Linked DNA regions of Homo sapiens: region 1 is linked to region 2. The links come from fine-mapping of genetic effects on gene expression. A gene starts in region 2. The other region holds a variant in brackets. All regions are shown on one strand. Distances are from middle to middle.

Region 1 (16,105 bases), 54 kb before region 2:
TTGTGGCCTCTTCCTCCATCTTCAAAGCCAGCAACATCAGATCTCTCACTCCCTTCTTTCTTAGTCGTTGCTCCCTCTGACCACAGCTGGGAAAGGTTCTCTGCCTGAAGGACCAATGTGATGAGATTGGGCCCATCAGGATAATGTAGGATAATCTCCTTTATCTCAAGGTTCTTAATTTAATCACACTTGCAGAATCCCTCTTGTCATATAGGGTAACACATTCACAGATTCTGGGAATTAGGCCATGATATCTTTGGGAGGTAGTTATTCTGCCTACCACTATTAGATTTTTTCTTCGTTTTGAATTTAAAGAAAAATGGTTCAAATCAATGGTGTCTCCTAACTCTCTTCTCTCCCTCATGCTCTCTTGCATGCTCTCACTCGCTCTCTCTCTCTCTTGTTCATGAGCATGCAGCAGTATCGCTACTGTTTTGACAGTGTTCCCTTCCCAGATCAAGGGGCTTGGCTTAATTTTTTCTCACCATTCATGAATCAAGTCTCAAATTGAGGTGCAGTTTTATTCAGCCCTGTGCCAAGGCTAATGGTAACTTCAGAGTTAAAAATGCGATGCAAAGAGTTGGTGAGAAGGTCTTACTTCACTTCTGGTCTTTTAAAGTTTGGGGTAACATAAGTTGTTTATAGATAACACTCTGTTTTGGCAATTTGGACCTCTAAAATATGTCCATATCAGCGTAAGCCCTCAGTTACCATTGAGTTGCTATTCTTTTCTCAGCTCTTTGTTTTGATTGCTTGATTTGCTTTAATTCAACAAGCGATTTGTGTAGTGCTTTAGTTCAGACATGCTTAGTGAGTGAGTGTGCAGTTAGCATGTAATGTCATCAAGCAGGCCACCACCTGCTTGATGTTTAATGGAAAACTAGATATGTTGTTTAAGATGACATGTATGAATAAGAATAATAACCTCCATCTTAGTGATTTAAGAAGAGGTATAAACTGAGGAGAAGAAAATGGACATTTTAGACTCTAGAAGTTCAGCAGCTCAGTTTGGAAGAAATATCTTCTATTTAAAAATTGATTTATCATAGGCCCTTGAGTTACAATTATGTTTGATATTTAAGACCTAGCATGCATCTAAGTGAGTGATATTCTGGATGAGGATTTTACTGATTGTACATTACACATGCATTACAAATGAAAAACAATTTTTTTTTGTTTTCCTTCAGGTTTCACCAGAATATTAATTGGGTTCATATCCACAAGGAGGCTGAGCCCATGAGGTTCTCTTTAGGAGGCCAGAGTGTAAGGGAACAAATATGTGCACCAGATCTCCATCCTTTGGTTGAAATGTGTTTGGGGGATGGTGTTGCAAAGGACATGCTGTTCTGTCTCTTGTGCTGCTCTGGTTCTGGAGATGAAATGGTGCAGATGTTAAATGGCTGAATACACAGACTTCAAATATTGAAGCATCTTTTTTTCTGGTGACTGTTTTCTAAGATCTCATTTTCAGTTTTAGCCAGGGGCATTGGATTGTTGGTAATGATGTTTTTCTCTACGCAAGTGGAGTTCTACATCAGATGGTGGTGTGGATCTCTGTTTATAGGAAAGTTTGAGATCATGGGGCCAGGAGAGGGGTGATTGTCTAAAATCCAGGCCTGAGACGGACACCAAACAGGAATTTTGAGTGTTGTTGGAGTTGAGCTTGTTCCTGCCTTGATTCTCACCCCTGTAGTTTCAGAGGATGAGTTACGCTTAATTGTCTGCTTTAGAATCCTATTCCTGTCCATAGCCTTAGAGACTTGAGCTGTTCAGTTATCTCTTTCCTCTCCTGTGGTTTCAATTTCCACTCTCCACTCTCTCAACATATCCATGCATTCGGCTGTGTCACATTTAAACACGAGTAAACATTTTTCTTAAAGCCTACTTCTTTTCCTTACTACCCCTCTATTTATCTTTCCTTTAGAAGCCAAGCTTCAAAAAAGCCTAATCACCTCTTGCTACTGACATTACTTACCTTCCAAATACTGCAATGTGTTCGGATTGCCACGTAGTCACACCCCGACTGTACCTCTTTCCCAGATTTTGAGTGATTTCTTATTGGCAGAATCCAATAGTACTTGTTTTTAGCATACCTAGATTCTCTGCTGCATTTAACATCTTGACCACTTCCATTTCAGTGATACCACCTCTGTTGGTTTCTCTTCTACCTTTCTGGTCATATCCCAGTTCCCTTTTTAGCCTCTTCCTCGATCCAGTCTTAAATGCCTGTGTTCAGCAGCCTCTTTGCTTCTCAGTTTACCCCTCTTCCTAGTTAATCTCAGTCTCTTCTATGGTTTCTTCTACCCCATGTACACCGATGCCCAGTTGAGTCCCCTTTCTCCATTTGTCTAATGAACAGACCATTAGATAGATTATCTACACTTAATTTGGACCCTGAGCTAGTTTCTCTGCTGAGGTCCAAGTTTTTTTTTTTTTCAGTGTAGATCTTTGTGATGAACTGCCTTTTGAACAGCCCTGCTTGGATGTCTCAACCATCTCTCAAGTTCAACGTGTCCAAACTTATCTTCCCAACAAACTCCATCTCTATGTTGTCACTTCTCTCAATAAAGCGACTGCCTTCTTTTAACCCAATCACTTTCCCTTCTCTGTGATTGCTTCTCCTTGTTTCTCTCCAGTTACTTTCTTAATATCTGAGGACTGTAACTTCCTCTTCTCCATCCATCCTCAGTCACTGGCATTTTCTCTCTCCTGGTTTGCCACACCAGCCTTTCAGCTGCCTTGCTCCTGGTCTTCCCATTCCATTGTACCTCCGCCAGAGCTACCTTGCTAAGATAAGTAGTCAGGTCATTACTACTCTTTTTTTTTCTTTTTAAAAATAATTAATTGAGATTCGTATTGATTATGATCTGCTTTCACTTTGGTGATTTACAAAACTACCAAGATAAAGATTACAGGCTTGGAATTCCTAGAGGGGGTCACTGATATCACCAGAGAAAAACTTTGCCTTCCATTTGGTGATCTGATGTGGTCTGTATTCATTTCTCAATTTAAAACTGCATATTTACTGAAATCAATCTTTTTATTTTTCAGAATGACATTTTCCTCAGACATTATGACAAAGGGCCATGCAGGAATAAACTTGGCCACTCAAGAGCATCAGTGATGTGGAACCGAACACAGGTACCCTGACCTTATAGGGAGCGTGACATAAACCAAAATCGTGATGGCTTAAAGAGCCCACCTCTTCGCCTTTCCTCATTATTCCCTCCTGGGAGGTACCATCCCAGCCTGGGAGCTTCTGGGGAGTGTTAGGGCAGGGCTAGGGAAAAGTAATGGGGTAAATACCTAAAGTTAATTCATGAGCACAGTCTCCTTAAGGACAAGCGGAGAAACAGGGGCACCAGAGCTGCCAGGCAGTCAACAGTGACGTGCAGAATGCAGGCAGATGTTCTTTCCTCTTGAGAAACAGTGGAATGACTTTCCTAAAGCCCTTTAAGGCATATTACCTATCAAAGGCAGTGTATTAGTCTGTTCTCACACTGCTAATGAAGACATACCTGAGACTAGGTTAGTTATTAAGGAAAGGGGTTTAATGGACTGACAATTCCACATGGCTGGGGAGGCCTCACAATCATGGCAGAAGGCAAAGGAGGAGCAAAGTCATGTCTTAAATGGTGGCAGGCAAGAGAGCTTGTGCAGGGGAACTCCCATTTATAAAACCATCAGATCTCATGAAACTTATTTACTACCACAAGAACGGTATGGGGGAAACCACCCCCATGATTCAATTATCTCCACCTGGCCCTGTCCTTGACACGTGGGGATTATTACAATTCAAGATGAGATTTGGGTGGGGACACAGCCAAACCATATCAGGCAGTGCTCTAAAACCCTGTGAGCCCCTTCTAGGGCTTAGATCCCTGTGTACATGCCATTGTGTGTTTATGTGGCAGGTTCAAAAGGAGTCATGGTTTATTTTTAATTTTTAATAGTGTTTTATATTTATTAAAGGCGGTATTCCTTTGGAGGGAGTCAGTGCTAATATCCTAGTAATCATTAACATCCCTTTGAGCTAGTTGAGGAAATTCAAGTAGAGAGAGAGCACCAATACCAATAATTCATGACTATACTGAGCTTGCGACAGCTTGAGTTAGCATTTGGATGGTTTCCATCCTTGATTTGGTCCTTTGTATCTCTCTGGCTTCTCTCCAATTCAGATCATTGCTGGGCACTAGCTGAAAGGTCCCAGAAATGTAACTGTTCTGTGTGCCTGAGATGATGTCTTGTTCAGGCTGCTATAACAAATGACCATAGACTGGGAGGCTTAAAGAACAGAAATTTACTTCTCATAGTTCTGGAGGCTGAGAAGTCTGAGGTTCAGGTGACAGCATGGTCATATCTTAGCAAGGGCTCTCTTCCTGGTTTGAAGATGGCCATTTTTTTGCTGTGTCTTCACATGGCATAGAGCCTAGAGAAAGAAAGCAAGCTCTCTGGCATCTGTTCTTGTAAGAGCACCAATCCCATCATGAGGGCCCTGCCCTCATAAACCAACTAACTTCTAAAGGCCTCGTCTCCAAATACCGTCACATCGGGGATTTAGGGTTTCAACATATGAGCTTCAGGGGGACACAAACATTTGGCCCACAGCAGATAACAGTATAGTTGGAATAAGTATACATATTGAAAGACTTAATTGCTGAAATATGCTTTTCTTTGAAATTTCCAGGTGGTGGGGATTCTCGTAGGCTTGGGCATCATTGCCTTGGTTACTTCACCCTTGTTACTCCTGGCCTCCCCATGTATAATCTGTTGTGTCTGCAAGTCCTGTCGGGGCAAGAAGAAAAAGCACGACCCATCCACAACCTAAAGATCTCTGTGTTCATACGCCCCAGATATGTGAGTTACATGAGATGGCACAGTGATAAAGCCCCATTTAGTGACCTTGCCTCCTTCTCCTTGCCAACTTTGAAAGTGCCTCCGTGTCCAGACTTTGAACTTGCCTGCCAGCCTTCAGCATCAGGAAAGGCCAAGTCCTGGGTGTGAGTGTTCCTGTGTAACAAGAACTGGGCTCAACGGTCCAGCTGTTTCTATGGAGCTTTGGGGTTCCTTGAGATGAATGAACATATCATTTTATCATCCAAAGGATCTCACTGGACTGTTCAACTTCCAGCCAAATTCAAGGAGCTTGCGGGAACATTTGATATAACAAATGTGTTGTCATTGTTGGCAACATACAAGATAACCAAGAAGCTGGAGTCTGTTCTGTGTTGATTTGACTGCCATGAGAAACACAGGGGAAACCTGATGAGGAGAAGGATAAGACTGCGTAAGGAGAAATCCTCATAGGAGCTATAAAGCAGGCTGCTGATCTCAGCAGTTGATATGGTGGTTGTGCCTCTGCTGGCTACTGGGTGTGCTGTCCCCATGTTCCCGCTGTGATTTGGCAGAAACACAATAGGCTTCTCCTTGTGTGATCTCAGCTTCAAGCAGGTGAAACTGCTGTGCAGAGGGAGTTGCCCCTTCCCAGTAAAAGAGTTGCAGCCTGTTAAACAATGTGGTCTAATTTAGTGTCTCTCCCTTGGCAAATGTAAGTTTTCTAAGTTGGCCAACTTGTCTCTTACAGCCAGTGGCTGTGGTCTACAGAATTGTTTCATATAAAATACGGGTAGAGTGGTAGAGTTTCAAAACTTTCGTCATAGATATCTGGGACCTTTCTCAGGATCTGTGTTCACACAGCCAATAGATTTGGAATCAGGCCTAAGAGTACACATGGAGGGTAAATATTAAAGTGCGTATTATGTACATCTAGAATCCATGTGACTTGCAGCCTACCTGTAATTTCTATCCATTGAGCATGCATGGATATACCCAATAGTACACACAAAATAAATGTTTACTTAAGAGCCATTCTATCCTTTTGTGACTGAAATGGTTTATTGTAAATCTGCCTAAAGATTTTTTGCATATTATATATGTGAATTTTGGTTGTAAGTTCATAACTTACCCAAGGGTATAGACTCATAACTCTTTTAAAACAGTGCTTAGTACAATATCCTGCCATCTCTGTAAAAACGCTAATTGATAACCGAGTCATTTACATGTTTTCGAACACAGAATAGCTCTTTTCTCAGCATCATTATTGCTCTTTCAGCATCTGTTAGGACAGTCTGAATACTTTCTGTTTCAAGGCACTGATAAAACCGCAACAAAAACATGTAAGAAATAAAATAGAAATGCTTTATATAATTTAGTTTAAATTTATGTATCACCTCATTGTGACTTATTTTTTCCATTATACCATTAGTCAGATTTGAATAACGAGGTTTTGAAAGGATAAAACCTTTTCTCCAATGACAGGATTATATAATTGCTATTGGCAATGTAGCCTGGTGCTTCATGAGACCTATGCTAAATGTTACTGGAGAGTTCTTGAAGCCAGGGATACCATATCAGGAACTATTCAGGATCTATGATATTTTCTGAGGTAACTGGGTAATAGAATATCAAATTGCTGCTATCTCGGACCTATTGTTAAAGGATGATGCTTTGCCTATGTAATAGGATATATCCTAAGTGGGGATGTGTATATTTCAGGAACTTTAATTCACAAGTATATATTGATATCTGATGTGTGTATAGTACATCTGTTGGTTATGTACATTTTAATTTACATGTTGTGTAGAACATAGATGAGAACTCTGGGAAAACTTGGGAATGGCAACCAACCAAAATCATTTTTAATCATTTATTAGAAATTTCTCAATATTGTGTCTTTTTCTTTTGAAACTCTAAACACTTCAGAAAAAAACACTATCAGTGTAGTTCATGTTAGTATAATTATAGATTTACATATATTTGAATAGTTAATTTGCTTTGTTTTACACGTAGCCCACTGCCTCATTATAGGTAAAAGGCATTTATAACTGCTCAGGGGATTACGAGAACTCAACTGAAACTGAATTTTTGTAACAAGAATGTTAATAGTGGCAAAGTCCTCTGTCAGTAAACTCTTTAAGCTTGGTGCTGCAAAGAGTCTTTAAATGGGGGCTGATTTCAAGTAACCTAAAAGACTGTGTTATCAGAGGAAGAGGTCCCAAATTTGGAGTAAAGATGGGAGAAAATAAATATGTGCTATTTCCTTGGCGAGTTGAGGGAATTTGCCACCTTACAGAGTTTGTATCACTGAATTAGCTGCTTTTGTTTTTTT[T/TG]TTTTTTTTTTTGCCAGGGCTATGGAGTGGGGGTTGTTTGTCAAACTGATTTTCAATAATTGGATTTAATTTTTTTTAACATTGAAAAGTGCCTGAAAAATGGTAAATTCTTAAATGTGTGTGAGATTGTCAGAATCAACAAAACTAGGTTGGTTAAACATATCTCTGGTACATCAAGGGGCATGATACAAACCAGTCTAAAGACTGTTTATAAAGGAGAGAGCTGGCGACTTATTTTTATTTTTATTTTTTGGACAGAGTCTCCCTTTGTCACCCAGGCCGGAGTGCAGTGGCATGATCATGGTTCACTTCAACCCCTACCTCCTGGGCTCAAGTGTTCCTCTCACCTTATCCTCCTGAGCAGCTGGGACTACAGGCACACACCACCACACCTGGCTAAGTTTTGTATTTTTTGTAGAGATGGGGTTTCTCTGTGTTGCCCAGTCTTGTCTCAAACTCCTGGGCTCAAGCGATCCACCCACCTTGGGCTCCCAAAGTGTTGGGATTACAGGTGTGTGTCACTGTGCCTGACAGCTGACAGTTTTAACTGACAACTTTGATAACAGAGGCTGCTATTTTTGTTTTAGATAATTGGCCAGTGACAGAGTTTACCCTTGCCTCCTTTCTTGGTCTGCCAGCTTTGTCCTTTCTGAGTGATTCTCTTTCTGTATTGAGAGGAAGTGTGGGTCTACATAGGGATGTTTGGATGCTATGGCAAGAATCTTTTTGTGTTTGGAGTGTAGTCCATTTGCAATAGAAATAAAAAAATCCGTCACCAAATTGTAACCTGGATGTTATAGCCCAGCATCTAGAAATCCTATGAAACGTATTAGCACAATATCTTGCCATTGTCCCATCTAGGAAATTTTTTCTTGTTGTGAGGTAGGGAAGTGAGGAGGAAAGCCATGCCGAAGCAAATGTTAGAATCTTAGGCATCCTATTTGTTCATGCCATGGGTATTTGCTTTGGACTTGGAGTCTGTACTTTGAAAGAGGCCTTTGAAAAACAAATAATTCTGTGTGAATTTTCTTGTAGCGTGCTTCATGAAAATATCTACTTATCCAGGTTTGCAAATGTACATGTTCATTTGAATGTAAATCACCATTTCTTGGAACCCCACGTTTTTTCTTAAAAATTATTCTGAATTAAATGTATATTTCTTTAGCCTTCCCTACACAGTACTAATAAAAGACTTTTCTTTCTGTTCATGAATGGATGCCTTTATGTGATATAGAGTCATGTGTGTATGTGTAGCTTTAAGGGCAATTTCAGAAATGCATTAGATGAATGACATTTTATAAAGCGATCACAATTGATATCTACAGGCTATTATGTCTCATGTTGATTCATGATCCAGGAAGTTTTATGTATTTAAAAAATTGCTATCGTGTTATATTTTTCCAATTTTTGGAGAAGAAAATAGCTGTTTAGGCTCTCTAGCCACAATAAATGTAAGCAGGAAATCAAGTGTGTTAACCTTTGTTGCGCTGCACAATTCTAGGCATGTTCAGTTTTATCCTTTGAGAACCAACCAAGTTACTGTTAAATCCTAGGTTCTGAATTTACAAAATGTACCAGAATTTGCAATACCATCTATGGAAATAACTCTTGGCTACTTTACTTCTTAAAAGAAATAGGGTCAGGGGGTCAGGTGTGGTAGCTCACGCCTATAATCCCAGCACTTTGGGAGGCCAAGGTGGGCGGATCACCTGAAGTCGGGAGTTCGAGACCAGCCTGGCCAACATGGTGAAACCCCGTCTCTACTAAAAACACAAAAAATTAGAACCCTGTCTCTACTAAAAATACAAAAAAAAAAAATTAGCTGGACATGATGGCACATGCCTGTAGTCCCAGCTACTTGGGACGCTGAGGCAGGAGAATTGCTTGAACCTGGAGGTGGAGGTTGCGGTGAGCCAAGATTGTGCCATTGCACTCCAGCCTGGGCAGCAAGAGCGAAACTCGGTCTCAAAAAAAAAAAAAAGGGGGTGGGGGGGTGGCAAGTGTAATGCCTTTGTTACACACTTTCTTCTTTGTAGGTGTGATAGTCCACACTGCCAGTGCATAGGAACTCATCATTATCCAGAGCAATAACCAATAATACAGATCTTTGATCATTCTAATAAAAAATGCTGCCAAGTGTCAAAGCCATTTGTTCTGTACAATAAAGGTTGGACTAAACGCTAAGGTCAGTTCTAACCTTCCAAAAGTCTGCTAGAGGCATGTGTTTCCTTGTTATGATTTTTTAAGAAAGGATTTAAGAGTGTTAAGGTCATTTCCATTTGAATTAGTATTCGAGGCAGGTCTTAAGTTGGGTGCCAAAGATTACTTAACAACTAGAGCTTGTGTTTCCATAAAACCGAAAGCTCACTCTCCTGTACTGGTGTTGAAACCTTTTTATTGAAGGCTGGATGCTTCTAAAATGGTACCTGCATACAAAGGTTTACAACTGATGTACAATTCAAATTTCATTTTCTAATCATTCAGTTTTGAGGAAATCAATAAGATCATTTAAAAATACTTTTGGGTTATGGTTTCTTAATTTTCTTAATCATCTCCTAGAATGTCAACATTATTTCATTTTGAAAGTGTGCTTATTGTTTGCTAACCTTGAATTTGCATTCCCAAAGAAATATTGAATGAACCATTTTATATAGCAGTGATTTTAATCAGTGCCCTAACCAGCAAACTCATTGCAATTTAAGTTATGAATCTGATGATTTGGAGGAGAATAATAATTAGGTTTTTCTGTAATTCAATTATTTTCATTTGTTAGATAATAAATCTAGTTTTCTTTAGACCCTAAAGATAATGCCCAACACTATGAGAAAAAGGAAACGAATCTGCTTAAATGCGTTAATAGCAATTATAATGTTTTATTTGTATATTTTTACGTAAACTAAAGAACTTTTGAGAACAATCCTTTGAGATAAATGGAGCAGATTAGATCCATTTTATGAAGAAAGCAATGTTTTGTATTCATGTCTTGCTTAGGTTCATACTGATGAGTGACAGCCAGGAAAAGAATGCACTACGACTTGAAAGTTCTATAATGCTCTTTCATTAGTAATTTCGAGTCTTTCACTCCCAAATCTGTGAGTCCTAAGAGAACATAGTACCCTCTCATTTATCTGCATCAGTGGAGATGTATGTAAGAACATATTTCAAATCATCACTTAGAGGCTGTGTTTTGGTGGGTACCCCTGAGATCCCCTCACCTCACTCCTTGAAGTTTGGCTAGAGAAGGACAGTTGATGGAAGGTAACTAGAAAAATAACAAGGCGGTCTGCATCTGACTTGCTAGTATTGGAAGCAGAATTATAGCTGAATCTATATACTTACCCCAAATGCCCAAGTGCTTGCCTCTCCCCTACAAAGTACATTCTCACAAGTTCCTTTTGATATTTACAATCAAGATTCAAAGGGACTGTTGACTCAGATCTAACTCCTTTCTTATTAACACTGCCAACTTGTACTCAAATGTGTATTTGTAGCCTACCATTAAATCAATTGGCAGTTTCCAAAGCTAGAAAGGGGACTCCAAGTAATGAACTTAATTTCTCATACATAAAGAAGTCCTTTCAATTCCATTTTCTGCCTTTATGATTTTCGATTTTTATCAGTGCTATATTTGCCCTCAGTTTTGCTTTTTTTTAGCTGTTAAATCAGGAATTCGGGCTTTCGATGAGAAGGAAATTAAGTTGAGTGTTGGTCGTTTTATCTTGTAGTTCCTTAAGGACCTGACATGATTCAAGAAGATATATTTCCTTTTGTGGGGAGTGGAGGGGTGGTTAACATCAATAGTACTGAACACATTCAGATAAAATGAACATGAAGGTATTTTTGAGGTAAGTTATGGGACTTCTGATTATTGATCAGCCTCGACTTATGTTTTGAAGACAAGCCAATTCATTTTAAAACAAGTTCAGAAATCCACATACCACCCTGTGTGGTGTGTCCTGAATTCCAGCCTGGCCCTGGGACTTTGGCACCACAAGGGCATGTGAACAGGGTGCTGGGAGAGGGCTGGCAAACGTGGTGCCACCCTGGCCACAGAACAAGTGTGCAGCGTCCTCTGTCCTCCCGGCCCTCTGCCAATCCAGGTGGTGTGGGGTTGGAGGCAGACGCCCAGCTGGCAATAAGATGGCTTCAGTTCTAGGCCTGGCTGTGCTCTTGACTGGTGGTATGGTCTGGGGCCAGCCCTTTATTGTATAGCGTCATTTCATCCCTATCTCAGGTCAGGCTTAGGTGGATCGAGTAAAATCCCGAATGTCAAAGTGCTTCTAAGTGTTGGTTGTTAGGGAGGTGTGAGGAGAGCGAGCCACTGAGTTAGGTGTGCTTGCAGCTGTTAAGTGTAGTTGATCAGTTTTTTGTTTGTTTGTTTTGAGACAGTCTCGCTCTGTTGCCCAGGCGGGAGTGCAGTGGTGCTATCTCTGCTCACTGCAAACTCCGCCTCCTGGGTTCAAGCAATTCTCCTGCATCGTCATCCTGAGTAGCTGGGACTACAGGCGTGTGCCACCACGCCCAGCTAATTTTTGTATTTTTAGTAGAGACAGAGTTTCACCATGTTGGCCAGGCTGGTCTTGAACTGCTGGCCCCAAGTGATTCATCTGCCTCGGCCTCCCAAAATGCTGAAATATTACAGGCATGAGCCACTGCGCCTGGCCGAGTCAATCAGTTTTTAGCCAGGCATTGTTCTGAGAGGAGAAGAGGGGGCAAACTTGGGGCAGGAGGAGGGTAGTCCTGAAATACATTTCAAGCTTGTCTGTGTTGAGAGAAGTATGACCCCCTCCGTAAATGTATTTTCTTTTTAGGTTTAAAAAAAAAATCCTATGTCATTGTTTAACAAATATTTCACAAAATAGTTAAATCTAAGTATATGCTTCATTAAAATGAGGGGAATATGTGGAAAGAAATGCAGAATTTATATCAACACATTGATTTTGGGGGGAAGGTTTATGGTAAGAACTTAGTGTTTAAATAATGCCTTATAGTATGCAGTTTCCTTTTGCTCTTCATACTACTCTAGAAAGTAGATATTACTCTTCACACCCCCCCACCCCCAATGTACAGATGGGAGATGAGACTCAGGGGTTAGAAGACATGGTGCAGGTCGTACAGCAGGTGAGTGGCAAAGCTAGAACTTGAACCCACATCTTGCATGAACTAACTCGGGACCTGTTTGCATTATTTTAATTTTTAAAAGCATCTAAAAACAACACATTTATTACTTCAGTTTCTGTAGATCAGAGGTCTGACGTGATGTTGCTGGGTTCTCTGCTCGAAGTTTCACTGGGCTAAAAATCAAGGTGTTGGCCAGGTGTGGGGGCTCATGCCTGTAATCCCAGCACTTTGGGAGGCCGAGGTTAGCGGATCACGAGGTCAAGAGATTGAGACCATACTGGCCAACATGGTGAAACCCTGTCTCTACTAAAAATACAAAAATTAGCCGGGCGTGGTGGTGGGCACCTGCAGTCCAACTACTCAAGAGGCTGAGGCAGGAGAATCGCTTGAACCCAGGAGGTGGAGGTTGCAGTGAGCTGAGATTGTGCCACTGCACTCCAGCCTGGCCACAAAGTGAGACTCTGTCTCAAAAAAAAAAAAAAAAAATCAAAGTGTTGGATGGGGCTGTGTTCTCCTCTGGAGGGAGGCTCAGAGTCCTATTCCAGGCTCTCTGGGTGTTGTCAGAATTCAGTTCCTTCTCACACCTTCCACGTGGCCCCCTCCATCTTCAAGCTTGCAACAGCTCATTGAGTCTTTCTCATACTTCAGACCTCTTTGGCTTCCTCTTCTGACACATCTCTGGCTTCCATTTTACATTTTAATGGCTACGAGAGTATGTATATTTGTCATTTTCAAAAGGAAATTTAGCTTTTTAAAATCTGTTCTGTTTCCCAGCCCCATGAAGGCAAAGAGTTTTCACAGGTAATAGAATCTGCTTGAAGACATCACAAACTTGGGGAAGAGTTAGCAAAATCTAACTTCTACCTGGGAACTGTTGACTTACCGTTGGAATTGGGTCTAGTATAGCCAAGGAGATCAGCAATTCTGCTTCTGGCTAGTGTCCTTGGGAGGTCCATTTGGTCTATATGTGGGACAGATTTTCTTAAATGGACTCAGAAGAAAACCTGATCTGAGCTTTCTAAACAAACCTTCAGAAGATTCAGGATTGGATTGAATCTTGTTTTGGATTCAGGAAGGACAACTCTTTTAAGAGCTGGCTTAAAGTACAGGATGGTGTTTCCATTCAAGTCAGACCAGTAAAGCAGATGGATCTGAGTTAACCAGTCACTGCCTGTTGTTGAGGGACGTGCAACAAAAGTCAAGGTCATTGCCTCTTCCCCTCTCCCACCCCCAGTGCAGCAATACAGACCCGGCCAGATGCTGTAGATGTTTTAAACTAGCATAGCCATGCTTTTGACTAGAAATGAAAGACTGGAGGGAAGTTTGATAGCTCTCCTAGTCTCTTGTGGACAAGTTACAATTTCTCTTGGCTTCGGTTGCCTCATCTAGAAAATTAGGAAGTAACTGTTTTCTAGGTTCAGTACAAACCTAACATTTTGACTAAGATGGAAAAAACCTCCAGCCCCCTCTGTGAGCTCTATATGCATGAAACTAGTTAGCTCAAGGGAAATTCTCCTTCTTAGACAAAGTAATCCTCAGAAGCAGCTTCCAGATGCTGTTATGGATAATGCCAGAAGCATATGAAATATATTGCCAATTTACTTAAAATGAGCAAATTCAAAGAGTAGTGGTTGAACCTCATGGTTTATCTACAGCTCTTGGTGGCTAAAAAGACCTATAATCAAAGTTGCTTGGGGAATTTCCAGGGACATGTTTCTTCTAGTACCTATACAAAAAATATCAGGACCTCACTCTCCTTATTTGAAGCACACCATGGATTATTATGAGTGTGTTAGTCTAAGGGGCTTGTTATTAATTTTTTTCAGTATACATTGTATTTTCTGCAAATTGAGTTAAATTTAAGGTATATATATTGATAGCATATAGGATAGTATATATGCATGTATGTTTGTGTGAATGAGAAGATAAATAGGCACATCGACTTTGTTAACAAAATTTTTATTCAGTCTTTAATGAATTCGATTTTCAAAAGTAGAACACAAAACTACTTGTGAACTTTGAAAAACGGTAAATAAAGAAATAAGTTAATTAAAAAAACAAGTTAATTAAATATTCAAAGAATGCTTTAAAAGTTTTAAGAGTGGTCATACTAAAACTCAGTCCTCATATTTACATCTGATATCACAAGTGTGTCATAGCCAAGGAAGTAAAATAAGAACTTGTGGTGGGGCATGGTGGCTCACGCCTGTAATCCCAGCACTTTGGGAGGCCGAGGTGGGCGGATCACTAGGTCAGGAGATCGAGACCATCCTAGCTAACACGGTGAAACCCCATCGCTACTAAAAATACAAAAAAGTTAGCAGAGCGTGGTGGTGGGCGCCTGTAGTCCCAGCTACCTGGGAGGCTGAGGTGGGAGAATGGCATGAACCCGGGAGGCGGAGCTTGCAGTGAGCCGAGATCGCACCACCGCACTCCAGCCTGGGTGTCAGAGCGGGACTTCGTCTCAGAAAAAAAAAAAAAAAAAAAAAAAAAAAACTTGAAAAAAATCTTCAGGTTTAATTTCTTTTACCTACCTTAAGGAAAACAAAAATGTGTGTTGATTGCACCTTAAAATGAAAATGATAAAAATAAGTGGTTGTATTCTTCTCCCACTCCCCATTCATAATCTGCAGGGTATTTCTCAAACAATAAATATCCTCAACTGGTGTAAGAATGTTAATTTACTACTGGAGGGAACAGAAGATGACCTGGAAGCATTGTCCCAAGCTAACTGCTGAGGGCTAGACACTTATTTGAGGTCTCTGGTTTTATTTTTTAATTTTATTGTTCATTTAAACATTCATTAAAAATTATAACCTCCATACTATTTTGATTTTAATTAAGTAATTTTGTTTGTAGAGACAGGGTCTTGCTTTGTTGCCCAGGCTGGAGTACAGGGGCACGATCAGGACTCACTGTAGCCTCAAACTCCTGGGCTCAAGCAGCTTCCCACCTCGGCCTCCCAAAGTGCTGGGATTACAGGTGTGAACCACCACAACTGGCCTGATTTTATTTATTTTTATTTTTGAGACAAGGTCTTGCTCTGTCGGCCAGTCTGGAGTGCAGTGGCGTGATGATCTCGGCTCACTGCAGCCTTGACCTCCTGGGTTCAAGTGATCCTCCCACCTCAGCCTCTTGAGTAGCTGGGACTACGGTGCATGCCACCACACCCCGCTAATTTTTTAATTTTTTTGTAAAGACAGAGTTTCACCATGTTGCCCAGATTGGTCTTAAACTCCCGAGCTCAGGCAATCCTCCTGCCTCAGCCTCCCAAAATCCTGGAATTACAGGTGTGAGCCACCAGACCTGGCCTGATTTCATTTTAAAGATTACATTTTAAATTATTGAAGTAAGATTAACTTCTTCTTTTTTCTTTTTTTTTTTTTTTGAAGACAGAGTCTTGCTCTGTCACCCAGGCTGGAGTGCAGTGGCACGATCTCGGCTCACTGCAACCTCCACCTCCTGAGTTCAAGTGATTCTCCTGTCTTAGCCACCCGAGTAGCTGGGACTACAGGCGCACACCACCACACCTGGCTAATTTTTGTATTTTTTAGTGGAGATAGGATTTCACCATATTGGTCAGGCTGGTCTCGAGCTCCTGACCTTAGGTAATCCACCCGCCTCGGCCCCCCAAAGTGCTGGGATTACAGGTGTGAACCACTGTCCCTGGCCAAAATTAACTTCTTAAAGATGCTTTATCTTTGTCTTGTATCCTCCAGTACCCCACAATACCCTGGGGTGTTACATACACCTGTTTGAGAAGCATGAGCAAGTCTACTAGGTTATTTTAATCACCAAACATATATTGAATGCCTT
Region 2 (16,105 bases):
CTAGGTAGTTCTGGAGTGAACATTTCTTGTTTCTCTAATCACCTTTTACTTATCCTCTCCAAAGGAAGATAAATTGCTGATGGTTGAGTATGAATCTACTGGGCCATGTACAACACAATGGCTAGTTACGATGCCGCCAAAGTGAGAATCTGACTCGACTTTCTCTTGTGCTATAAATCTGTAGGAAGGGAGAGGGATTTAGCACTGCCATTCTCTGGGAGCTAAGTGGACTGAACAGGATCTGCTTGTTTACCAGTGCCTGATGGCATATATGAGGGAGATTTTGACTGCAGGCTGTCAAGTACAGACTTGGCGTTATACCCTGTTTTTATTTTATGTTTTTTTCAAAAAGATTAAACATCAGCCATTAGTGAAGCTGCTATTGCAATTGCCACTTGGGCTGGTGAACTTTGTGAATGTTCTGATAGGTTAGAATTGTGAGAAGTGAAAGTGAGGCAGGAGGGAATATTGATTCCCTAAACTCTAGCACTTCGAGATGTACAATTAAAAAAAAAAATTTTTAGAAGTGGTGAGGGAAACACAGGTTGCTGAAATGATTTATTGAGAGGTAAGGCTAACTACACAGGGACATAGAATGTGGAATGATAATCATTGGAGACTTGGAAGGCTGGGAGGGAGGGTGGGGGATGAGAATTTACTTAATGGGTATGCTGTATGTTATTTGGGTGACAGATACACTAAAAGCCTAGAATTCACCACTATGAAATATATTCATGTAACAAAATTGCACTTGTACTGCTTAAATTTGTACAATTAAAAATTTTGAAAATAAAGGCAAATGTAAGCATGCTTTCTTTAAAAAATTGGGTGTTTCATTGAAAGATAGAAAAATTCTGCATCTTAAAAATTCCAGTTGGCCTTTTAGTTACTTTGTGGTCAATGATATTGTCTCACCTTTCCAATATCCATTGGAATAGTGATGGTATCTAGGAATACACAAATATAAATGATAGGAATGCCCTGATCCAAGGGGCAGAGGTCTGTGAATGGCTCACAGCCACCTTTCATAGTTCAGGATCTGAAATTCTGTGTGTCAGGGGCATGTGGAAGTGGAAAGCACACATTTCCCTATCTGTGAAGTGTCTCTCTTTCCCTTGACGGGTCTGTGACTTCTCTTGGACTCTCAAAGTTCAACCAATCAAAGATGAATTGATTCTCAAAGTTCAATCAATCAAAAATGAATTAATTCAAAGTCATTAAGTTTGTAGCTTGTGCTATGTCTTTAGGCAACACTTGGGTAGTGAAAATAAAATAAAGAAAAAAAGCAAAAAGCAGTGCTTCTGAAGGGTGATATTGTTTCAAGAGATTAACAAAGATTTGTCATGCATTCCAGAGCTGTGGGGTGGCAGTGCACTGCAACTTGTTGTTAGAGCCTGCTTGTTGCTGCCATCAAGGTCAGGCTGTCTTTGCCACCCCTCAGTGCCCATCAAAATAATGCATCGATAACAAAAGCTGTAGCAGCTTGACTGACTTCTGCTGCACCCAGAAATTTTGGGGATAAACTACAAGGGGAAGCTTTGAATTTCTCTGGTGTGAAAGGATACCCTCCATTTCCTGCTAATTAAGCCATATTAGGAGGAGGCAAAGATTTGTGGCAGATGAAATCAAAGCTGAATTGAGAACATTATTAACGAAAATTAATCTCTAAGCTCTCCTTCATTCCCTTTTCTCTAGACTAGCATGGTTTCTTTCTTTCTATATAGCCATTTTAATATTCAGGCACAATTTTCCTCTTAATATTCAACTATTGTTAGCATGATACTTATATTTTTTATAGTATTTACAAGGTCTTTTAAATTAGTCTTTTTCACTGAACATTTATTTTTAAAATAATGTTTTTATTATGAAAAAATTATATGATCATTATAGAAAATTTGGAAGCAAGTGGCAGTGACAAAACGTAATAATATATTAAGTTAATGATAGATACGAAATTTCTATAGCCCAGTTCAGGCCTCAATTCATCAAAAAGGTTGCTTAGGGCCCAAAAGATTTTTTATTGTAGGTGTATTGCTATTATTGCATTTACCATGTTTTAAAAAATCAAATCATTACCCGTAGTCTCATTCAAGAGCAGGTGCACTTTCTTACTCATTTTTCTCCGTAAGTTTCTTTTAATCATCAGTTTTTTGCAGCTTCTTTGAGGTATAATTGACAAATATTAAAATCCACATATTTGTTTATTTTTATTTTGACTTTTTTATTTTTTAATTTATTTTTTCTTTTCATAGGTTTTGGGGGAGCAGGTGGTGTTTGGTTACATGAATAAGTTCTTTAGTGGTGATTTGTGAGATTTTGGTGCACCCGTCATCCAAGCAGTATACACTGTACCCTATTTGTAGTCTTTTATCCCTCACTCCCTTTCCAGCTTCCCCATCACAGAGTCCCCAAAGTCCATTGTATCATTCTAATGCTTTTGCATCCTCATAGCTTAGCTTCCGAGTGAGAACATACGATGTTTCAAATCCACATATTTAAAGTGAACAATTTGATGAGTTTGAAATACATTTATATGTATCTGCGAAACCTTTACCCAAATTGGGTTAATTATCACCTGCTTCTCGCTTCTTCAGGCAACCACTGATTTCTGTCACTATAGATTAGTTTGCATTTTTGAGAATTTTATGTGAATGGAATCTTATTTTTTCTAACCTCTTTCTCTCAGAATAATTTTTTAGAGATTCCTCTATGTTGTTTTGTATATTTATAGCTCATTACCTTTTTTTTTATTTGAAACAGGGCCTTGTTCTGTTGCCTCCACCTCCCGGGTTCAAGCAATTCTCCTGCCTCAGCCACCTGAGTAGGTGGGACTACAGGCACGCACCACCACGCCTGGCTAATTTTTGTGTTTTTGGAAGAGACGGGGTTTCACCATGTTGGCCAGGCTGAGCTCATTCCTTTTTATTGCTGAGTAAGAATATGCTACAATTTTTTATCCATTTATCTATTGATGTACATTTGGCTTGTTTCTAGTTTTTGGCTACTACAAGTAAAGCTGCTATGAACAGTCATGTATATATTGTGTGGACATATACTTTCATTTCTCGTGGATAAATAGCTAGGAGTAGAATGGTTAGGTCATATGGTGACTGCATATTTACATTTTAAGAAATTGTTTCTCAAAGAGGTTGAACAATTTTACATTTTCACTAGTAGTGTATGAAATTTCTGGTTGCTCCACATCCTTGAAAACACTTGATATAATCAGTCTTTTCAATTTTAGCCATTCTAGTGGTTATGTAGTGGTGTAGTTGAACATTTTTTTCATGTGCTTATTTGCTATTTGTATATCTTTTTTGAAGTGTTAATTAAAATATTCTGCCCATTTTTAATAAAATTGTGGTGGTGGTGTTAGAGTTTTTAAAAAATGTATTCCAGATATCAGTCCTTTAACAGATACATTATTTGTAAAGATTTTCTCCCAGTCTAGGGTTTCTCATTTCCTTTTTAAAATAGTGTCTTTGGATAAAGTCTAATTTATGGTTTCTTTTTATTCCTGTATCCAAATCTTTGCCAAACTAAGGTCACTATGATTTTTTTTCCTATTGTGCTCTAGAAGTTTTATAATTTTAACTCTTGTATTTAGGCTTATGTTTTATTTTGAGTTAAATTTTGTATATACTAAGCGGTAAGAATCAAGGTTCATTTTTGTGCATATAGATACCAAGTTGTTCCAGAACCATTTATTGAAAAGATTATTCTTTCTCTTTTAAATTGTCCTGGCACCTTTGTCAACAATCCTAAATATGTGGGTCTATGTTCTATTCTAATTCATTTATTGATCTATTTTTATGCGAATACCACACTGTCTTGGTTAATGAAACTTTGTAAAAGCTTTGAAGTTAGGCAGTACGAACCCTCTGGCTCTTTTTTCAAAGTTGTTTTTCCAAAGAATTTTCTACAGAGTCAGTCGTGTTATCTGCAAATAAAGCCAGTTTTATTTCTTCTTTTCAAATCTGGATGCTTTTCAATTTTATTTATTTATTTCCTATTGCATAGAATAAAATCTCCAGCACTGGATACACATGTTCTCTGTCATAAAGAGAGGTTATAATTCTCAACTAGAGGAAAGATTTATGAAATGTTCCTTGGTGTATAGCATTTTAGATTTCAGTTATAGAATGAGATTGTGTGCTCAGGATTACCTGTCTGCAATGCCTGATATTTTCCTCTTGGGCAGGCATCCAACTAGTATCTGAGAGGGAAATCCAGTAGCCAGAAGGAAGGAATCTGCTTTACATTAATTCTCAGGACAATATTATTTGACTATATACAGATAGGATAATGATGACATGATAATTATAGGCAGGAAAGCTATGAAAAATAAAGCTTGAAGTAGGATCTGAACACCTCGTTTTTGAAGGGTATCTCCAAATATTTTATTGGAATACCAGATATATGAATTTCTCTTAAGTTCATAGGCTTCAAACGTTCTAACAAAGCACAGTCCTGAAAAAATAACTTGAGGGGCTTCACCGAAGAAGATATACAAATGGCAAATAAGCACATGAAAAAAATGTTCAACCACACCAAACATTAGGGTAATGCAAAGTAAAATCACAATGAGACATTACTACATACCCACTAGAATGGCTAAAATTAAAAAGACTGACCACATCAAGTGTTTTTAAGGATGTGGAGCAACCAGAAATATCATACACTACTGGTATGTAAAATTGTTCAACCTCTTTGAGAAGTAGTACACATATGCACAGAGTCATATTAAAATGTTACCTATGCAACTGTCCTATACATTAAAGTTATTAAAAGATCTGAACACTTAGGAAAATAGGACTGAATAAGCAATTAAGTATTTTTTTTCTTTTCCTGCAGGTGAAATTTCTCAGGATTAAAAAATTCTCTAAAAACATCCTAAAGGAAATTTTTTTTCAACAATTTTTCTTCTATGAATTCACTTTTCAGTTCACATTTCTGGAGAAAAAAACTCAGTGAAAAATTGATGAAAAATGTTCATCTAAATGGCAAAATATTCTAAGCTAAGCAAAAAGCATTTTTTAGATGCCAGTGATTGAGTTACCAAGGGTGGGTATTGGTTGCGTAGGATGGAGTGAGCCCAGGAGGTCCCGGCTAGGAGAGTATCACTACTGACCCCAACATATGCTGGGATTGTTGGGTTTGCCTAAGAGCAGCGGGGTTTCAGTTTATAGTACCTATCTCTCCCCACCCCAATCCTTTTGTGATCAATAGAATATATTAAAATGACAGCTTGCAAACTATGAAAAAGCTTGCAAACCTCACAGAAGAGAAGTCTTTAAAAACTATTAAAAATTTTAAAGACACAGGGTCTTTCCATGTTGCTTAGGCTGGTCTCAAATTCCTGGGCTTAAGTGATCGTCCTGCTGTGGCCTCTGTGTAGCTGCTGTGCCATTGTGCATGGTGAAGATAAGTTTTTTAAAATTATTATTTTTGTTTTATTATACAAGTAGTATGAGTTCTTTGGGAAATCAATTTAAAAGCATATTTCGCTATCCAAGTAAACATAAAAATATGCACTTTATTTTTATTTTTATTTTTTTTTTGAGATAGAGTCTCACTCTGTTGCTCAGGCTGGAGTACAGTGACGAGATCTCAGCTCACTAGCAAACTCTGCTTCCTGGGTTTAAGCGATTCTCGTGCCTCAGCCTCCGGAGTAGCTGGGATTACAGGCATGTGCCACCACATCTGGCTAATTTTTGTAGTTTTAACAGAGACAGGGTTTCACCATGTTGGCCAGGCTGGTCACGAACTCCTGACTTCAGGTGATCCAACTGCCTCAGCTTCCTAAAGTGCTGGGATTACAGGCAGGAGCCATTGCGCCTGGACTACATATTATTTTTTTTAACGTATAGATATCCATATATTTTCTAAAATATGGGAATCAATATATACGTATAGATTTATCCTTAAACTTGTTTTATAACATACAATTTTCCATATACTTAAATATTCAAAATCACAAATATTAATATTTTATAACATTATTTCATATGTATATAATTATTTAATCAATTCCCTGTATTTAACAATTAGGTTGTTTCCAATTTACAGCATTACCAGGATTGCGGAGATTGATATTTTTGTGTTTATTTAGATTATTTTTCCATAATAAATTCTCAGAAATGAAAATATTGCTGAAGGATCAAAACACTTTTGAGATTTTTGCACATTTTGACAAATTTTGACCTAACAGATTCCTAGTAGCAGTGAGTGAGAGTACTCATTTCATCATATACCTGACAGCAGTGAGTATTATTTTAAAAGACATACATGCCAAGTTGAGGGAATAAAGTGTTATCTCTGCTTCATCTTTCATTTCTTTGATTACCAGTCATGTGGGACTTTTAAAACATAACTGTGTTAATGGTCATTTCTATTTACTCTTTTGTAAATGATCATTCTTTTATTTGATCAATACTTATTGATTGCCCACTATGTGTGAAGCACTGCAGAAGGTGTAACATTCAGCAGCAAATGAGAGAGAGACAGCCCCTGCCCTAATGGAACATAAAGTTTTTTTTTTCTTTTGAGGACAGAGTCTCAGTCTGTTGCCCAGACTGGAGTGCAGTGGCACAATCTCGGCTCACTGCAACCTCTGCTGCCTGGGTTCAAGTGATTCTCGTGCCTCAGCCTCTGGAGTAGCTGGGGTTTCAGGCGTGTGCCACCACATCCGGCTAATTTTTGTATTTTTAGTAGAGACGGGGTTTCAGCAGGAATCACTGCTGACCTCAGGTGATTCGCCTGCCTTGGCCTCCCAAGTTGCTGGGATTACAGACGTGAGCCACTGCGCCAGGCCTTTTATGGTGGTTTTTGATGTGAGTAAGTGATATACAAAAGTGTAGGAAAATTGGTCTCCCTCTCTTTCTGGTTTATTTTTTCCTTTATCATTGATTAGAAAGATATTTGAAATTCTAGATTATAAATTCACATATTTATTATTTCTTCTGGGTCTCCTGAGTGTAGTTTTTACACTTAATAATTAAATCCATCCAAAATGTACATTATTGTATCTTGTAAGGCAGTGATTTATCTTCTCACTGAAACAGTTAACTCTCTATTTTAACACTATTTATGAAATAATCCTTCCTCCTCTTGAATGATTAGTCATCTCACCTTTATCATATACTAAGTTCTTTTTGAGTAGATATATATTAGGATCCATTTCTGGGCTATTTGTTTCTACCATCAATTTTTATGTGTGTACTACGTTATTGTAGTGTCATAATATGTTTTATTATCTGGTAATGTAAGTTCACTTAATTTATGTGAGAATCATTAATTAAACTGGTTTTAGTAGCTGCTGGAGTTCAGCCTGACTGATGAGATTGCATGGTTTTTATGATGTCGTATAAAGATATATAAAAGCAAAACCTTTTCTTTTTTTCATATGGACTTTTTTCCTTTGACTATAATGTAGCACATGTTGTAAAACTTTGGATCTTCCAGAAAAACACAAAGGAGAAGATAAACATCACCCAATTCTGTCACCAGAGAGAGCCTTTTAAAATATTTTGAATCTTATACCTCTGGCCTTTTAGAGATGCACATGATACATATTATTTTATATTATCCTGCAGGGATTGTGCCTTTTATTTCTAACGATATCTCAGTGGAACACTTTCTATGTCATTAAATACTCTTAGTCTTTTAAAACATTAATTTAATGATTTCATATGACATGTAGAATGTATCATACTATATTTAACCATCCTTAGGTTTATTTGCAGTCTCTATTTTAAATGGTGCCACGATGAACATTCTTAGGGAGTAGGTTAGAGGTTTTTTTCTCTTTTTCACTCATTTTTCTTCTTTCTCCATCGTGTTTGGAAAGAGGTATTTTGGTAAACTGGAGAACAGTGATAGCTTTGATATGCTAAACGCATCAGACTTATCCCAAGGAAACCTGTTGATATGGTTTGGCTGTGTCCCCACCCAAATCTCATTTTGAATTTTAATTCCAACAATTCCCACGTGTCGTGGGAGGAACCTGGTGGGAGGTAATTAAAACACGGGGGGTGGGTCTTTCCCGTGCTGTTCTCGTGCTAGTGGATAAGTCTCACGAGATCTGACGGTTTTAAACACGGGAGTTTCCCTACACAAACCGTTTCTTTGCCTGCCGCCATCCACGTAGAATGTGACTTGCTCCTCTTCGCCTTCTGCCATGATTCTGAGGCCTCCCAGCCACGTCGAACTGTAAGTCCATTAAACCTTTTTCCTGTATAAATTATCCAGAGTTGGGTATGTCTTTATCAGCAGCATGAAAATGGAGTAATACACCTGTTAAGAGTAGCAAGGAATGATGCCATGAGTAAAAGATGGAATCAGGCGGGGCGCAGTGGCTCAGCCTGTAATCCCAGCACTTTGGGAGGCCGAAGCGGGCGAATCACCTGAGGTCGGGAGTTCAAGACCAGCCTGACCAACATGGAGAAAGCCCGTCTCTACTAAAAATACGAAATTAGCCGGGCGTGCGGGCGGATGCCTGTAATCCCAGCTACTCAGGAGGCTGAGGCAGGAGAATTGCTTGCACCTGGGAGGCAGAGGTTGCAGTGAGCCTAGATTGTGCCATTGCATTCCAGCCTGAGCAACAAGAGTGAAACTCCGTCTAAAAAAAAAAAAAAAAAAAAAAAAGATGGAATCAGCTGCCGAGTGTGGTGGCTCACGCCTGTAATCTGTAATCCCAGCCCTTTGGGAGGCTGAGGTGGGTGGATCACAAGTTCAGGAGTTCAAGACCAGCCTGACCAATATGATGAAACCCCATCTCTACTAAAGATACAAATATTAGCCAGTAATCAGAAGTTAAAGCATTCATTCCTTAATCTATTCATCAAATGGCTAAGAAGTTTCTAAAATGCTCTCTTCTATGGAATATGAAGATAAATGAGATTTGACCCCTAACTTCAAAGAACCCGTGATCAAAATTTGTGTCTATGTGTGCGTGTGTGTGTGTGTGAATGAGGGAGATACACAACAGGTAATTATGATATAACACAATAACTGATATACAGAAACATGAACATTTTGCTTGATCCATAATTAGTCAAATCACTAATCTGAGTCTCTTGTTTTTACCCACTATTCCATGCTCCTAATAAAAATAACATTTGAAAATATCAACAGGGATATCTAAATAGATACACATTCATGTCCTATGTTTTGCAGTATGGTGTGCATCCTACATGTACAGGGTCGATTTTTCTACCTCCCTGAGATAAGCTCCCACATTAATCTGCTATGGTACTACTTTCCTCCCTTTATCAATGATTCAAAGAATAACAAGCCAGACATCCTTGGCAACTGAAATCATTTCAATGTATTGAAATCATAAGGTGTACTGGTTAGCTATGGACTGTGCTGTCTCTTAACCCATTCAGAAAGATGAGGGTAGCCGGGCGCGGTGGCTCAAGCCTGTAATCCCAGCACTTTGGGAGGCCGAGGCAGGCGGATCACGAGGTCAGGAGATCGAGACCATCCTGGCTAACACGGTGAAACCCCATTTCTACTAAAAATACAAAAAATTAGCCGGGCGCCTATAGTCCAAGCTACTCGGGAGGCTGAGGCAGGAGAATGGCGTGAACCGGCAGGCGGAGTTTGCAGACAGCGCCACTGCACTCCGGCCTGGGTGAAAAAGAGTGAGACTCCGTCTCCAAGCAAAAAAAAAAAAGATGAGGGTCACCAGCAAAATTTCTTTCATTTTACATTGTTGATATCTCTGTTTTAATCCGTAGTCCTTGTGGAAGGTGGCTGTTGCCTGTTATACCTTGTGAGGGGGCTTAGCTAATCAACCCTTATTAATTAGTCACTAATATGGGCTATGTACCAACAACTGTTTTCACTAAGTGGTGGCAGCACTAATTGATGGGGCATAATGAGCCCCTCCCGAATTACGAAGAAACATTGCTCCTTACCCTCTGTAGATGATCCCTTATAGATGAAGGGCTACCAAGGGAAGGCTGGAACAGGCATGGGATGGCAGGGTCTAATTTGTTTTTAACCTGCTTCTAAGAAGTTGCTTAATTAATATAGGATTAGCACATTTGAAGGCTTGAACAGGTGCAAACACACACTTGTAACCAGCTGTGTAATTGACCGCAGTGCAACAAGCCAGGTCTGAGCATGCAGACCTCACTAATCACCTGCTGACCTCCTATCTGTGGCTGTAAAAAGACCTGTTCTTTTTAGTGCAGGATTCCCTGAATCTATCTGGAAGGCCATGTATGTTGGGATGAGTTGAAATTTTTGGTTTTTGAGCAAACCTTTGTAAATGGGTTCATCTCCACATATGATACCCCAGAAACATTGCTGCTCCCCTTTTCTTGGTTTGTTTCTGTGGCCTTACTAACAATCTGGGGAATCTTGTGGATGTTGTACAGATGCTCCTTGCCTTCGAGGGGTTACATCTCAATAAACCCATTGCAAATTGAAACTATTATAAGGAAAAATGCATTTAATACACCTATAGGTTTATCAAATGTCATAGCTTAGCCTAGCTGACTTTCAACATACTCAGAACACTTATGTTAGCCTGCAGCTGGGCCAAATCATCTAACACAAAGCCCATTTTACAATAAAGTGTTGAACATCTCGTGTAATTTATTAAATAACATACTGAAAGTGAAAAACAGAATGGCTGTATGAGTACTCAAAGTATGGTATTTATTGAATGTGTATTGCTTTTGCACCATTAAAAATGAAAAATAATTGTAAGCCAAACCATTGTAGTCGAGGATCATTTGTATATGCTGTGGTAAATAGGTCTCCAGGCTTAGATCTCAAAGAATTCCAGAGTTCTAGGAGCCTTTAGGAATAGCTACCTAGTTCAGGGGTTGGGAAACTGCAATGTGGAGCCAATTCAGCCTGCGACTTGTGTTTATAAACCAAATTTTGTTGGAAAACAGCCATGCTTATCTATGTATTTATCCATGTTGCTTTTGTGTTACAATGGCAGAGGTGAGTAGTTGTGTCATTGAGCATATGATGTGCAAAGCTGAAATTATTGACTCTCTGGCTCTATACAGAAAAAGTTTCCTGACCCTTGAGATCAAGGGTCCAATCCATACTATATTTTTCAGCTTTTGTAGTAAAATTAAGTAAATTGCCCTTTATAAAAAGTTTTCAAGGAGCTCACTGTCTAGCAGAGGAGATGAAATACCCAAAATATGTGTAAATTCCTTCCAAATTGCTATTTCTCGTACGTGAAATCTGATTTTTAAAAACTTCACTTCTCATTATTTTTTATTTTCCTGCACAGTAGATTGGGATCTAGGCCTAAATCTAGTTCCTATTCAGTCTGTGTCACCATACCTGGCATCAGTGTATCATATATTTGTTAATTTGTTTATTATCTGTCTTCCTCTATCACAATGCAAGCTTCACAAAAGAAAAACTTTACATTTCTTATTCACATATCCCTAGGGCCTAAAATAGCAACCTGAAATATACTGGATACACAAAAAAACTGTGTTTTATGGAATCTAAGAAGCCATCGGTTGTAAGTTGTACCATTATTTTATATACCACTAAGAAAGAAAAAGCACTGGCAATTAGTCTGTAACACATGCTGAGTCTCCTTGATTGAAAAATACATCCTTGTTCCAGAATTGTTAAGATGTGAAACAATATGCACCTTAAAACCAATGAAGAAGGAGAATTGTCAAGTAGGTGGGAGAAGTGGCGATCTTATAATGATTTTCAAGGCTTAGCTAACATTTTGTCTCAAACCAAATCACAAATATTTATTGAGTAATTGCTTTGTGCAATATTCTGGCCTGGTGCTTCCTCCAAATCATCCCTTACCATAGCACCTTGGGGAACTCCTTGGCGTGCATCCCCCAAGCTGTAGAGACTCAGAGTCTGACGAGCCAATTTAGGACTTAATTATATACTCCTTTTATTGATCACCATTGTTTCTAATGACATAGTCTTTTCTCCACAACTAATTGGTAAGCCCCTTGAGCGCAGGAACTGGTTTTTTAAAGAATGATGTATTCTTCACAGTGCTTTCCCTTTCTGTTACCCAGGGAGCACATGGCAATATAAGGGCTCCTGGGATTGAATCTTAAGTACAGAGAAAACCTAAGAATGCTTTTAGATAGACAGATAAGAGACCAGTAGAGAAGAGCAGATTGAAGGTATGTGTGAGAAACGTTATGTAATGAAAAGATAATTGATGACACACACTTCCAGAGGGTGCTGGCGAGATTGATTCAAAAGCACACGGCTAGGGCACTGAGTAACGAGAAAGAAGTTGCAGATGAAGGATAAATGGACAGGAATAAGAAAGGGCTTCATCATTTAAGAATCTGAAAGAGACAAAAAGGTAAGGAAGGGACTAAATGGGAAGAAAGGGAGAAAACAAACCTTTTCTAATCTCATTAGCTTCACTCTTCCAATGTCCTCCCCACCTCTTCTCAAGGCTCCAGAGAATTTGTCTCCAAATGAAGCCCATTCTCTCTTCTTTCTTGTTAATACTGCCTCCTCTTCTCCCTCTCTTCTTACTACTTTCCCTCCTTAGGCCTACTTACATCTTCTTTCCTCATCAATTCAAAGCTTTCAATTGGTCTTTCTTAGTAAGACATCTCTTTCTAGATTTAGACATATTTTAGGAATTATGAGGACAGAAAAGCAATGCAGGGGAATATGGGGAAGAGGAAGGAACCTGTAATTTATGAATCACTTTTTTTTTTTCACATCTCCTAGGATCTTTACCTAGACCTTTCATTTAATCACAGACACCTTCCTTTAAAATTTTAGATACCCGTCCAAGGGTTCACTAGCAAAGCTGTCGCATGAATTCCAGTCCTCTGGTTTCAGAACCCATATACTGTGCTGACTTTTTTATTTTTATAACATCATGTTGCCTTTCTATAGAGGTAGTTCCTTCTTCTAATTATGAAAGGCTCGTGCTTATGTGTATTCTTATGTTTAATGCCTAGTTTTCATTACTTGAAGAGATTTTGGCAAGATTTAGTACTTTTTAAATATATTTAATTGCACAAGTAATACAGGTCCACAGGAAAAACGATTGAACAATCGTGATAGGCAAAATGAAGAAAATGAAAAATTATCCAGCATCCTTTGTGCCACGGCTTTCAAAATCAGTAAGATGAAAACCAATCCTCCTTCATTACAAAGTATTTTGAATAAGAATATAAGCTTAAGTGCTCATTCAGCAGCAGACAGACATGGGCTAATAGCTCAATGGCCTAACATTTCATCCCCGGACCAAAGCATTAGTTTTAGGCCTTCTTGTGTGGGATCTGTGGATTGTTTTATTTTCTTTCCTAATGAGCAATTGGACTAAAGGATCAGGTTTAATTATAACTAGAGTCCCTTTCTGTTTGTACATCACTGCAGACCTAATTGTAGGCTGGCATCCCTGCTGCGGCCTGAGTGGTCATTAGCTTGCTGATAATGAACTATGCTTGTCAACATGGCCTCATTAACCATTGTTTTTTTTTCAGCAACATGGTTGTAAGGGTTTGAACTTGTGATTGAGGATGTGCTGGACTCATCGTGCTGAGAGAAACTTGTCCAGTTACGTGGTTAGAACCAAAGAGTTTTGGCTCAGACAAGTGATGCTATCCAAGGATAACTGGATCTATGCTGCAGCCTCAGGAATGTGACATGTCAGGAAGAACCCTGACCTGAGAGTTAGAGAGTGAGATTCTTATCCCAGCTCTGTGCTGTGTAGCCCTGTGACTTTGGGCTAATTGTATCACTTTCTGTCCTCTAGTTTTCTCACCTGAAAATAAGAAGGTTCTACTCAATGATTGGTGAGATAACTTTTTGTCAATAAAAATAATTTTGCATGATGCTTGTGCAAACATTTTTTTCCTTTTTTTTAATCAGTGATTTTATCTTCTTAGGTTATACACTAGAGGGCAGTGGTACATTAATATTATAAACTATGAATGCACTTGGTACTGCATTCAGCTGAAAGTCATAGACATTTGAATTAGGAAGGGATCTTATCTATTTCTCATTCAAAATATAGGAAGCTGTTCTGTAGTGTCCCCAACAGATATTCTTCATGACCCTGTTGAACATTCCTAGTGTTGGGAACTTTGCTACTTCGCAAGGCAGCTTTTTTTTCTTGTTAGTTCTACTTATTAGAAAGTTATTTCTTCAATTAGTGAAAAACCTGCTTTCCTATAACTTTTATCGCTGGTCTTGCAACATGGCAGAAAACTGTATCGCCTTCTTGTAATGGCATTTCACATCTTTTATAGAGTCGTATTACTGAATAACTGTATTTACCATTTATTGGTAATTAGTAATTGTAAATTATAATTTATTGAGTATCAACTATGTATCAGCATTGCACCAGGCATCTTATTTACATTATTTTATTTAATTCTCACAATAAGCTCTGAGGGAATTTTCATCTTTATTTATCTGTATTTTACAAAGGCTCAGATCAAAACCACGTAACTGGTAAGCCATGTAGGTGGGATTTGAACCTAAGTCTGATGAAAACCCCCTGCCATTGCTCACAAAACAACACCTCCTTTTATAAAGGTGAAGACATAAGACCCAGAGAAGGGAAGCAACCTGCTTGAGATCACACAGTAAATAGGAATAGAGTAGGAACCGGATTCTAGATCTTTGGAGAACACATTCAATTTTTCTTTGCCGTACAGCACAGTGCACTCAAGACCGTTGTCATTTAAGTCCCAAATCCTCTTTTCTATATGTTAAATGTTCCTGTTTCCCCTCATTGTTATTCCAATGGTTTCTTTGCTGTCCTGTCATGTCCTCTGAGTGTGCTCTTAATTTGCTGCATCCTTTCTTTCTTTCTTTTTTTTTGAGACAGGGTCTCACTCTGTCACCCAAGATGGAGCGCAGTGGTGTGATCTTGGCTTACTGCAGCCTTGACCTCCCAGACTAAGGTGATTCTCCCACCTGAGCCTCTCGAGTAGCTGGGACCACAGGTGCACTCCACCATGCCTGACTAATTTTTTGTTGTTGTTGTTTGAGACAGAGTCTCGCTCTGTTACCAGGCTGGAGTGCAGTGCCACAATCTTGGCTCACTGCAATCTCTGCCTCCAGAGTTCAAGTGATTCTCCTGCCTCAGCCTCCCAAGTAGCTGGGACTACAGGCATGCCACCACGGCCAGCTAATTTTTGTATTTTTTGTAGAGATGGGGTTTTGCTGTGTTGCCCAGGCTGGTTTCGAACTCTTGAGCTCAAGCGATCCACCTACCTCAGCCTCCCAAAGTGCTGAGATTAAAGGCATGAGCCCATTCTTTCTAAATTATAAAACTCAGAATTCAAAACAGTGCTCTGTTTGAGTAGGAGAGAAGTCACTGAGACTGTATTTCCTGTCATTTGGACTTAATTTTCTATTAACATTGTCTAAGGTTGCATTAATATTTTAATATAATGTTGGCTTATTTCAAATATAAGGTCAAACATACCTCTTGTTCCTTTTAGTTTTATTTTTATGAAATATAAGAACAAGACAGAGTGGTCCTGTTATGTTCCTATCGATAGAAAAAAAATCCTCCCTATCTGATGAAGAGTCTTTCTGAATTGATAGTAACCTAGAATAAATTTCTGGGTTCTTAAGATATTCAAGGCATATGAACATGAAAATACTTGCATTTCTGGGATGATGATTGGATTCATTTTATATGTCAACATCCATGGTTGTTTTTGCTTTCCTATCAGAAATGCATGCTTGCTGTGTGTTGTAGACATTCATTGCTGTTTCCTTCCTGCCTATTATCTTTTGTCATAGCATGACTTTGACATCCTTTTAAAAAAGGCTATGTGCAGCCCAAGAGGAGCTGTTGATCAAAGGGGCCCTGTCCTTGTCTAGCCAAGAGTTGGGCATACGAAGCAATGCTCTTTGCCTCAGGACTAGAAATCCTGATTCTAGTGGTATGGAATGGAGAATTAGCAGTGACTGATTCATCCTGGTAACACCAATGCCTGACTTTTCAATATTTCCTTTGATCTGTGAGCCAATAATTTTTAAATATATATATGCATATATATAATTTTAAAAGTTAGAATCAGTTTCTGATGATTGCAGCCAAAGCAATCCTCACTCATACATCAATCTTTGGGATATATTTACTTTTTTT

Alleles and levels. Positions count from the first base shown, and alleles are read on the strand shown. Sizes are in standard deviations (SD) of each study's normalised expression.
In carriers of allele T in region 1, the expression in monocytes after R848 of the gene that starts at base 8,123 in region 2 tends to be lower than with TG alone (large effect, 1.2 SD a copy in Quach 2016).

What was found. PIP is the estimated chance that this variant, and not a neighbour inherited with it, causes the effect.
Region 1: its variant is fine-mapped to the expression of MIR548A1HG in monocytes after R848 (Quach 2016, PIP 0.95). The same link has a PIP of 0.9 or more in monocytes after LPS and monocytes after Pam3CSK4.

The regions. Positions count from the first base shown.
Region 1 is chr6:18,460,240-18,476,344 of GRCh38, forward strand. RNF144B (ring finger protein 144B) reads left to right here. Exons shown (of 8, transcript NM_182757.4): 7 at 3,052-3,141; 8 at 4,688-8,631. The coding sequence ends at 4,828. Among named protein-coding and RNA genes, the nearest start is that of MIR548A1HG, 54 kb to the right of the region's middle. The variant T/TG (reference allele first, on the strand shown) is at 7,169.
Region 2 is chr6:18,514,625-18,530,729 of GRCh38, forward strand. MIR548A1HG (MIR548A1 host gene) reads left to right here and starts at 8,123. Exons shown (of 8, transcript NR_149116.1): 1 at 8,123-8,211. LOC105374955 (a long non-coding RNA gene) reads left to right here. Exons shown (of 4, transcript XR_926549.3): 4 at 2,761-2,796. RefSeq lists an enhancer at 12,968-13,603.